2 separate regions of the Homo sapiens genome follow, and region 1 is linked to region 2. The links come from fine-mapping of genetic effects on gene expression. A gene starts in region 2. The other region holds a variant in brackets. All regions are shown on one strand. Distances are from middle to middle. Region 1 overlaps MCF2L2 (MCF.2 cell line derived transforming sequence-like 2). Region 2 holds the start of B3GNT5 (UDP-GlcNAc:betaGal beta-1,3-N-acetylglucosaminyltransferase 5).

Evidence for each region.
Region 1: its variant is fine-mapped to the expression of B3GNT5 in fibroblasts (GTEx, PIP above 0.99).

The regions. Positions count from the first base shown.
Region 1 is chr3:183,211,019-183,216,394 of GRCh38, forward strand. It overlaps MCF2L2 (MCF.2 cell line derived transforming sequence-like 2), which reads right to left. Exons shown (of 30, transcript NM_015078.4): 22 at 4,951-5,076. Among named protein-coding and RNA genes, the nearest start is that of B3GNT5, 40 kb to the right of the region's middle. The variant G/A (reference allele first, on the strand shown) is at 2,992.
Region 2 is chr3:183,250,684-183,256,059 of GRCh38, forward strand. B3GNT5 (UDP-GlcNAc:betaGal beta-1,3-N-acetylglucosaminyltransferase 5) reads left to right here and starts at 2,570. Exons shown (of 2, transcript NM_032047.5): 1 at 2,570-2,789. All of the region lies in intron 15 of MCF2L2 (MCF.2 cell line derived transforming sequence-like 2), which reads right to left. It overlaps LOC124906310 (a long non-coding RNA gene), which reads left to right. Exons shown (of 3, transcript XR_007096189.1): 2 at 101-182; 3 at 1,852-1,872.

The DNA.
Region 1 (5,376 bases), 40 kb before region 2:
TTTAGGGGAAAGCAGGCAGTGGAATAAACGAGAAGGAAACAGAACTATGAAGAAGGTGAGTCATTAGAAATTATGAGGAAGAGGAAGAAACTGACGGAAGGGAAAAAAACAGTCAGTAGGTGGTAAGAGGGGGGGCGAGCAGGCATGTGGGTGCACTTGACATATACAGGCGGGTCACACAGGTAAGAACCCCGGCTCCCTCCCCAGGCCCAGGCCCCAGAGGTGCTGTGGATCCTGGGTTTGCTCAGTTCCCATCTCCGCGAACTTGGCTTTGCCATCGTGACTTCTTGAGAAGCTGCAGGTCAGCTTTCCAGTAAGCCCATTATTACTGGAAGTGACTCGGGGGGAGTCGCTGGGTCTTTCAAGTCTGGCAGAAACATATGGGCACATATCCTCTGGGTCATGTTGCACAAATGTTCTCAGGACCACACATATGACGGTATTGCCCATCTCCACGCCCAAGGTCCGATCTCCAGCGGGTGAGCACATGCCCTACACGGTGCTGACCAAGGGCAGGCACACACACTGTTCACTGTGCTGTGTGGAGCTGCTCCGCCTCCAACAGGAAGCTGCAGGGACATTCCCTGAGCAGGAGCAAGAATGACCTTTTCCGTCACGTGTACCTTTTCTTTCCAACTAGACTGTAGTTGATCTCAAGGTCGGAGACCACGTTGCACAACCTCTTTCAGATACGTGTTCACCAGTATTTATTTATTTATTGGCATTCCCTAGTATTTATTTATTTATTGGCATTTAGTGGTGCTTGGGAGTAGGGGACAGGAAACAAAATACTCATCACTGTGAGGGAATATTGATTTATCCAAGGAGTTCATTCAGCGACGCCCCTGTACTGGGTTGAATAGTGTTCCCCCAAAAACTCATGTCTATGAGACCCTCAAAATATGATCTTATTCGGAAAGAGGGTCTTTGCAGATACAATTGGTTAAGATGGGGTTGCCCTGGGTTAGGATGGGTCCAAATCCAATGACTGGTATCCTTATAAAAAAAGAAAACAAAGAAATGGAGACGCACGCTGAGGGAACAGCCATGCAAAGGCAGAGGCAGAAATTGGAGTGGCACAGCTGTCAGCCAAGGAACTCCAAGAATTGCCGGCAGTCACCAGAAGCTCAGACGAGGTAAGGAAGGATTCTTCCTGAGAGCCCTCAGAGGGAACGTGGGCCTGCTCTCACCTTGCCTTTGGACGTCTAGCCGTCAAAACTGTGAGGGAATAAATTTCTGTTGTTTTAAGTCACGTACTTTGTGGTTCCTTGCGACATCAGCCCTAGGAAACGAATATACTTCCAACTGTTTTCCACCAGTAACAAAGAAGTGTGGCCATGTCACACGGTGTGTGGAAGAACCTGATGGTTGTGAACTCAGAGATGGAACATAGCGGCTACCTCAAATGAGCGAGCGATAAGTTAGATGGCCTCCTCTGTACAAGAAGTGATAGCAAAATCAATTAGTAAATGCTACCACTTTCACACCTGGGCATTCTGCAGGTAAGAGCCCCGATACAAGGATTTCAAATGTGACTACATTGGCCAAATGAAGAGTCTGGCTGAGAGAGTGAATCTAGGGAAGCTGGCCTCAGCAAGAGCTTCTTTTGGGTGCCCGTGTTTCCATTCCAGGTAGTAAGAGTTAATATGACTGTCACAAACTTACTGCACAAAGAAGCAGGAAACATCTGTATAAATGCGTCCACACAGAGCCTGAGTCCAGAAATGAAAAGCAGAAGCTGTGGGAGCCTGTGATTACAATAGTCAGGGGCAAAGAGGTATCTTCCTTTCCAGCTTGAGCAGGTCCCCATATAACGTACCACTAGGGCTGTTTATTCGGCATCTGTTGGGCGCCAGGCACAGTGCTTGGTGCCTTACCCATCATTTAATTCTCACTTACTCCCGGCAACCGCCTGTAATATAGGTATTGTGGGGGGGTGGGGGGGGTGGGGGGGTGGGGAATGAAGAAGATACTTTGCCTGGGTCACTAGGATTATTTACTTAGCCCTATCTCTGCAGCTAACACTGTGGTAAGGAAAGAGGAAACTGAAATAGAAATAAAATCCTGGCCCTAGCTCACAATGAACTTACAATACAAGTACATCCTTTAGTGGTTTATATAAATTTGTTCCAAAAAGGAAGACTGTTTCATTCAATCTTTACAAGTCAACTTTGGAACTTATCCCTGGCAAGTCAGAATTTAAATGCATCTCTAATATGCATTGGATTTGAAAAAAAAAAAAACTTTTGTTTTTTTTTTGCAAATAGATAGAAGTAAATTATAACTCAGTGTTCCACAAAACAAACTTGTTTGGAAAAGAATTTTAAACTTCTGTGATTAAATTAGACCCAGGACTAATTGAGTACACAGAAAAACAAGAAAATATAAATATCAGAAGGGATTTTTTTCTAGTTGCTTTCTAGTTGTTTAATTGTGATAATTTAATTATCACATTCAATTTCTTTCCTTTATAAAACCAGGTTAATATTAAATTTCAAGCAGAGAAACTAAGAGGTTAAACTGGACTCAGCCATGCATATAGCTGTAATTTATTACAGGTGATCATAAACACCTGTAATAAAACTCTACAAAATGGAGACAAAGAATCTCAGAATCATTTGAGCTGAGTTAGAGGCAGTTGTCAGTCAATTCTAATCAGAAACAGATAAAGAGTGGAATAGCACCCTGATAGGGAATGAACAAGAAATAGTCCAAGGTGACAGCCATGTAATCTTGAGTGAGTTAACTCTTCTTTCCATGGATCTTCTTTTGAATCAGAAGGTTGAAAATTCCAATATCTACTCCTCCATAATTCAACAGGATTATACAAAACTGTCAGGAGAAATTAGCTGATGTATTAGATGTAAAAGTAAGTTAAGTCTTAGTAGAAAAGGTACCAAAAAGCATCTGGCAGAGGCACAATTCTGAGGACACATGGTCAAAAAAGGTCCTTTGCTTTTTGCGTGTAAAATCTCCAAATTCTGTAAGCTG[G/A]TTCATCCTATTTGCATGCAAACTGGCTGGGAATGAAATTAGGGCAGAATGTTATTTGCTCATGTTTTAACCATTCTTTTCTCACAGCCTCCTCCTCCTATGTTATTTACACTGTTTCCTGCCCTGTGTATTGTTTCCAGGACATTCATTAGATTCAGGGAAATGAAATTTAATAGGGATGTCTAATACGTAATTCAAGATTTAAAAAGGAACAGAAAGATGCCCTGGATTGACCTAACAAATTGTTCCCTTGACTTTCCTCAGGCGAAGAAAGAAGAATTATTACCAAGAAAATGATCCTTATACACACCCTAACCCTACTCTGCAGTTTATGCATATCCTCTTGAATCATGCATCAGTTGTCATCAGAGACACCTTGGAGTCCCAGGGGACAGTAACAGCATCATGGCTGGGATCACAGCAAACCCCATGGGGCTAAGTTTCTGAGATCCAGGCCCAAGAAATACCAGCGTGGGAAGTAAAAATAACTCATTTTTCGGACCTTAATAACTTTCATGGTTTGATTTATGACAAGGAAAGAAAAGTCATTTCCTCTACCAAGACCTCAATACATGGTATGTTCAAAACCAAATAAAAATGAAAAGAAAAAAAAAGAGAAGGAAAAAGTATAATATAATCACAAGTGACAAAAACGCAGAAGAGGGGGTCACAGAGATGTGATGTAAGAAAAACTTGGCCGGGCACGATGGCTCTCACCTGTAATCCCAGCACTTTGGGAGGCGGAGATGGGTGGATCACGAGGTCAGGAGTTCGAGACCAGCCTGACCAACATGGAGAAGCCCCGTCTCTACTAAAAATACAAAAAAAAAAAAAAATTAGCAAGGTGTGGTGGCAAGTGCCTGTAGTCCCAGCTACTCAGGAGGCTGGGACAGGAGAATCGCTTGAACCTGGCGGGCAGAGGTTGCAGTGAGCTGAGATCATGCCATTACACTCCAGCCTGGGCGACAGAGCAAGACTCTGTCTCAAAAACAAACAAACAAAAAGAAGAAGAACCCAACCTGCCATTGCTGGTTTGTGCTTTATTACCTCTGCTCATAGAAGCCATGAGCCATGGAGCGTGGGTGGCCTTTTTAAGCTGGAAAATTCCAGGAGACAGATGCTAGACTCCAAAAAGGAAAGGAAACACCTTGATTTTAGCCCATGAGACTGTGTTGAACTTCTGACCTTGGAACTTCAAAATAATAATAATAATGAATTTGTGCTGCTCTAAGCCACCAAGCTTATGGTAATTTATTATGACAGTGAAATAAAACAAACACATCTGAATAAAAATCTAGAGTACTTCAAAGTAAAAAACAAAACAAGTCGAATATTAACTATGCTCCAGTCTCAAAGAGATCATACAGTTATAGGGGATGTTTTGCCTGGAATGCCTGGGACCAGCCTGCTCCGGATTAACACTGACGCTGGAGCTCAACTCCCCAGCATTGGCCTCTAACTGCATCTCTTGGGTTTTCTTTAGACTATTTGGATTAATGCATGTACACTATATACTTTTGGGGCCTCTTCTGGGATCTGTGATATAAAATTGGGGCAAGAATATAGGACCTGTTTCCAAAATACTTTTCTTAGAGAAACTCTGAAACAAGAAGACAAATCTTTTACTATTTTAATAGTGCCATGAGTTAGAAAATAAATTGCTCCTCCAGGACTTTTCCTCTGCCCATATATGTTCTGGCCCTTGACTTTCTGGTTTGTCCAGACAGTGGGTCAGTCCCACATTCAGAACCCTGAGGAATAAATCCAAGATTCCTGAAGATGCCAAGGGACAGCTTGGAATCTTGTAGTGCGGGTTTACTGAGCAATTTAGGCGACTGTCCTCAGAGTCCAATTCCTTTACCATAGACGATCTCTCTGACTTTGCCAGAGCATTTCCTCACTGTGTAGTATTGCACCTGCCTTTTGTGTGAGATGCTCTAACACTACTATGGAACATACCGGACATTCAGTCACTGCTGCTAGGTCCACAGCCAACTCACAGGACTTGATCAAATCCTCTATCACTGCCAAAGCTTGTTGTAGTTCAGTTGAGAATGCTGAATCTTTGGTTCTCTTTGGCCCATCCTGTGGAAAACAAATGCCTTGTTGGAAATCAAAAGTATACCATCTGCAAAGTGAAGAAGGAAAACAGGACAGAGATGAGGAGCCAGGGATCCAGCCAACCCTGACTGAGAAGGGTGGATATTGATCTGTCTCCCTGCTCCCAAAGCATGGTGGCTAAAGATGCTTACTGATTTAGGTATACGGCATAGAGACAAGCAAAATCATCTACCTCTGTGCATTGTACTAGTGACGAATGAAGTTCATAAATCATGGAAATTATATTCCTGCTACATAAGAAACATATAGAATTCAGCTATATAG
Region 2 (5,376 bases):
AGGAAGGCTGCGTGTGGTGGGAGGTGGCCGGGGGGCAGAGAAAGAGGCGGCGGAGCCAAGGAGATAGGGCATCGTCTGAATGGTGATGCTGTATCAACAGATGTGAAATTCCCAGAGGTGTGAAACACAGCAGATCCTTTACAGCACGATGACAGGACACAGCATGAGCCTACCTCTGCCAGGTGAGAGGAGCTTTCTGCAACCTGTGATGGGCTCAAGGATGCTGACCATTCATCCGCCCATTGGGATAGCCCAGGCTCTGAGCTCAGCACTCCACCCGTCACTGCGATTGCACTAATCCTCACCCACCCTTGCAGGCAGGTATTACTGTGGGCACAGAGAAGTTTGCTAACTTGCCAGAGATCCTGTGTAGGAAGCCAGGTCAGGAAACAACCAGAGTCTCTCTAACAGCCCAGGCCTTGAATGAACACCGGCCTGCTTCAGAATACATGGCCCGTGATGTGTTTGAATTCACAGATTCACTGGACAGGTTCCCTATAGGGCCTGTGAGGAAATCTGGTCTAACAGAATCCAGAAAGACAAATTTCGCTAAACAGGTCAAGCCTGATACTGCTGCTACACTTCAGCTGTGTTAAGCCACTCGGTTATCAGACCTGCTTCTCCTTTCATGATTTTAGTAACACAGGCCTCTTCCTTGGGCCCCTGTTGCTCCCACCATCTCCCAGGTTCTCTTGTACTCAGGGTTTAGTCTCCCCTCCCCACTACTAATGATGCATGTGCCTTACTCTCTGATCATCTCTCCTAAATCTGCTACTCCTCTGCTCTTTCTGTGCCTTATCTATCCCTGCCGAGTCTAACATGCAGATTTTGGTCATTCCAAAGTCATGTATAGATCTAATCACAGGGCTCTCTGCTTACCAGCTGCTACTTGGATAAGGAAAGCATGCCAACACGGTCCTCCTTCTTCATGCTGGCCAAGTCAGCATCATTATTATTACCTAAGTTTATTTCTAACACATCTCAATATCTTCATGCACTCCCTCTTGATAAAAGTAACTGAGCATAGCACCATCAATACCATCAAATCTGTCATTCTCTTCCCCTCTCTCTGGGTGGGACAGGAAGCCAGGCTGCTCTAGGAAATCTTCCCTAACAAGCAAAGGGGACTTGCCTGTCCTCTCGCATGTGTGATCTGAGCTTGTGTGGATCCCAGAGTGGGCATTCTGGACTACTTGACCTTGCCTATCTCTCCTTCACACCCTCTCATCTCTCCCTCCTACCACCAAAAAACTTGCATCGTATTTCCAATCTCCAGACATACTTTTGAAACCATTTATCTATCTGGTGTGTTTATCTGTATCTAGTATGATGTGAATATGTGATTTGTATGTGTGTCTACCACTGTTTTGGTCAGTTTGTATTTCTCGTGGGTACAGTTCTATGTGCTCATGTATGTGGAACATATGTATACTGACACATGGACCTAGCTCCAAATGATCTGAAAGGAATATAATTGTAATTGAATATTTGCACAGATATACAACATACACATGTGATGGCTGGGGGAAATGCATGTGGGATTTCAGTCAGCATTTTATTAGAGAAGGTATGTCATTAGTGCTGTATTAACAATGAATCAGCTTATTTGTGGGTCACTGTCAATGACTCCTTTGCAAATCACACATGTAAATATTTCTGTCTGTGGTCTGATGAACATGCAGTGCCACAGTCTGGGAGATGCTGAGCCATGCCCTGTGTAGGCAGCATATGAAAAGAACTGCATGATTTAAAAGATGCTGACCAGCTTAAGGAAAGCAATTTAAAAACTTCCTAAAAATCTAGTTTGAATGAACAACAGTTTTCATTTTGTGTGTGTGTTTTTTCTTTTAGAGATGGGGTCTTGCTATGTTGGCCACGCTGGTCTCTAACTCCTGGGATCAAGCAATCCTCCTGCGGCTCAGCCTCCCAAAGTGATGGGATTACAGGTGTGAGCCACCGTGTCTGCTGGCCCCACTGTTTTAAACCCTGATTCGACAATCATACATTTAACTCATTACCTGTCTTGTTCCTTTTACGACAAACTCAAAGCTTTTATTTTACTAAAGTATTTGGGTTAATCTTTTGCTTTTCTGTCATGTTCTGAAATATGTACAATAACAGAATCGCTCAAAATATTATCTCCGTTAAATGTTTTGTGGCTTTAGGGAGAGGTCTAACAACATGCGGGAAACAAGAAATCAAGCGCATCCAGGATTCATTTATAATCTCTCTCGTTGAGTAGAAGTCCGCATCTCTCGATATTGTCTGGTTACCTGCATGAAGTATTCTAAAGGAGGAAAATAGCTCAAAGAGGACATTCATGTGCACTCTGGCTTCCAGTTGGCCATTTGAGTAAGTGATCGCAATTAACTGACGAGCGGCAGGGAAACACTTCCTGGAATTCTCATCTACAGACAAGAACAAACTGGGGCGGGGCCCATCACCTTCACCTACGCGCCGGGAGGGTGGCGGCTGGCGGGCGGGGCCGGGCTCGGGCCGTGACGCCGAGAGTGCGGGGCGCGCGGCTGGGAGCCTCGCGCCCCCGCCCGGGCCCGCCCCCATCCCGCCCGCATACAGCCCGCATCCCGCCGGGGAAGCGAGCCCAGTCCAGCGCTGCCCGTCCAGTCCTCGCCCAAGATTTAAAGCCCGCAAGTTTTGTTCTTGAGACCAGCGACTTTAGCTCCGATGCGGGAAGGAAAGCCGACCTCCGATTTGGACATTTAAAGAGCTGGGCTTGAACTTCGTGAGTTTCGCTCTAAACTGCCCTTGAAATGAAGCTGGACTTGGAGGTAAAGTCACTGGGAAGCTGGCCTGGGGCGGGGTTTCCCCCTCTTCTCGTATTTTAGAAACGGACAGCGGCAGTGCAGCCCTAGTTTGCTGTAAGTTTCCTTACTTTGTTACTGAGGCCCCCAGAGCTCCACGCATAAGTGGTGTGACCAGAAACCTTTTAACAAGACCCGCCTGAGCCTGCGTTAGAGCTCCCGCTCGGAAAGTAAAAGACCATCCTAATCCGCGGCGCTGCGGAACCGGTGTCCCGTGTGGGAGGAACCGCGGCGTTCCCTGGGCGTAGGGCCCGCGAGGCCAGCACAGTCCGCCTCTTGGCGGAGCGCCCTGGGCCGGTGGTTCCGCGCGGAGTTAGTCTGTGGTCAGTTACGTGGTGAAAACACGGCTGTGCCGCGGCCGCATCTTTCCGCGGCCGAGGCCTCTCTGGGTGGGAGTGTTGGCTTCCTTTCCGGATCGCTAAATGGGGAAAGTTCTGGCCGCTCGGCGGGATACGTCTCCAGGCCACGGATGGTTCGTTCTCCGTGCCGCGGCCCCGAGCTGGGCTCCCTGGGTCTCCAGCGCGGGCTCCCGGCATTGGGGGCTGCGGGCCGGCCCCTCCGCCCCGCCCCCGCCCCGCCGCGCCTCCTCGGCCGAGCGGCTCGCGGTCTCCGGCGCGGGAGGCTCCGAGTCTGCCCACTCCGGGCCGAGCGAGGTCTCTGGAGGAGAAGAGTGGCGAGGAGGTGAGGGCACGCCGGCCCTCGCCCGGCGGGTGGCGCCAGGACTTCAGGTGGGAACGCGCGCTTGGGCCGGGGGCGCGTGGCTGGCGTGGACACCGGATCGGGGCCCGCCGCCCTGGCCCGGACCGCGCACGGCCCAGCGCCGGGAAGTCGGGAAGCCGGGGAGGCCTCTCCCACCGCGGGCCCCGGCAGCCCGCCCTCTGAAAGCGCGGCGGAGAAGGAGGCTCGTCCCCTCCCCGGAACGCCTTTGTTCCCTCCGGCCTGCCCGCGCGGGTGGCCAGCGGCTGGGACCCAGGCCGGGCCGCCGCCCAGGTGCGGCAGGTAGGCTCGGGGGCCGGGCAGCTCCGGTTGGGGCGGCTTCCCGGGGCCTGCGGGTCCCCGTCCCTGAGGAGCTCCGGCTCCTCGGTGGCGGGACAGGCCCGTGCGCGGGAGCCGCGAGGCGAACGCCGCGCCCACCAATTCGGTTGCCGGCCGGGGGCCCCAGGCTTGCGGCCACCCGCCTCCGGCTGGAGGGCTGAATTCGAGTCGAAAGCCCGTGTCGGGCTGGAAAGAAGAAACCGCCAACCTGAGAACGCTTTCGGCGAGTTACTGGCGGGGGAAATGGGGACAGGGAAGTGGGCAGGCGGGGAGACTGCAGCCGCAGATCTCCCTGGCGGGGAGGTCGTGGCCACTCTTTCCTTTGACTCTGCCTCATTTCATTTTGAATCCTGATGTGACAGAGGCAATTGCTTGCTTGGATACCATATAGGTAAAAGTAACAGTTTTCAACTCGACTCTTGACTACACCCTGTACATTCTTGGCCGGTGTTGGTTTTCTTAGGTTATGGATCATGTTAAAGGTACACCGATGTGGTAACCGCACAGTGGCCGATGGTGGCCTGAGGCTCATATTTATGGTAATTATCTGATGAAAGTACATCCATCAGAATTGGATTTGTGCGTCTGTGCCTTTATTTTGGGAAACCTTGCCTGTTCCCTGTGGGGGATGGGAGAGGAATGTGAAAAGCCGAAGTTGACCCAGAAAAGGATGATTGAAGGTAGTTGTATTAAGTGGTGGCACCGAAATGATTCCACCCTGAACTTTCTGAAAGGGTGATTAGTGATCAGCAGCAGACGTTATAACTTTCTCAAAATAAATTTATGGTAGATTTTCTATCTGGTCACAAGTGAGGAGGTGAAAGCTGCTTTTTGGGGCCAACTCTTTGCTTTTAAAGCAAGCTAAACGCAATACCAGAAAGGTTTCCATTCTGTACTTAACCTGCTTGTCCTTCTCACTCTTCCTTATCCTCCCGCACACGCTCTGAGCATTGACTGAGCACTCTGAGGAGGAGGCTGACTCAGGCTGACCCTTCCCGGCCCTGCAAGGCTCTAAGGTAGAACCAGTGTTATCACAGGAAAGGCCCAAGCCAAAGCTCAGAGCAGCTGTTCCTGAGAAAGTGGGAGATGAGGATGAGTAGGAGGTAGAGATGCTTATAACTGCTCTGCCCAGAGAAAACTCAGAAGGTGCAGAAGAGTTTTCAAAATAAAGTGCAGGCCCCATCAAGTAAAAAATGAAACATTGTATTTCATTAAAATGGTGATCAGTTTTCTCTTTTCATAAAAGACATTCAAATGGTGAGATTGTAAAAAAAAAAAAAAAGAAAAAGAAAACTTTCTAATTCTCAAAAATAGAACAGCTTGAATAATAACTCATGGGTTTTGAAATGGGTCATCTTTTAAAATGGGTCACTTTGGCTAGAATCATTGCACTTGGTGACTTTCACATTGTAAAGGGTCCAGTTCTTTCTGAGGCCCAATTGCACTAGAATCTGCATTTCAGAACACAGGAGGTATCAGGAAGAAACTGGGAGAAATTCAGAGGGAAATTGTCTCTTCT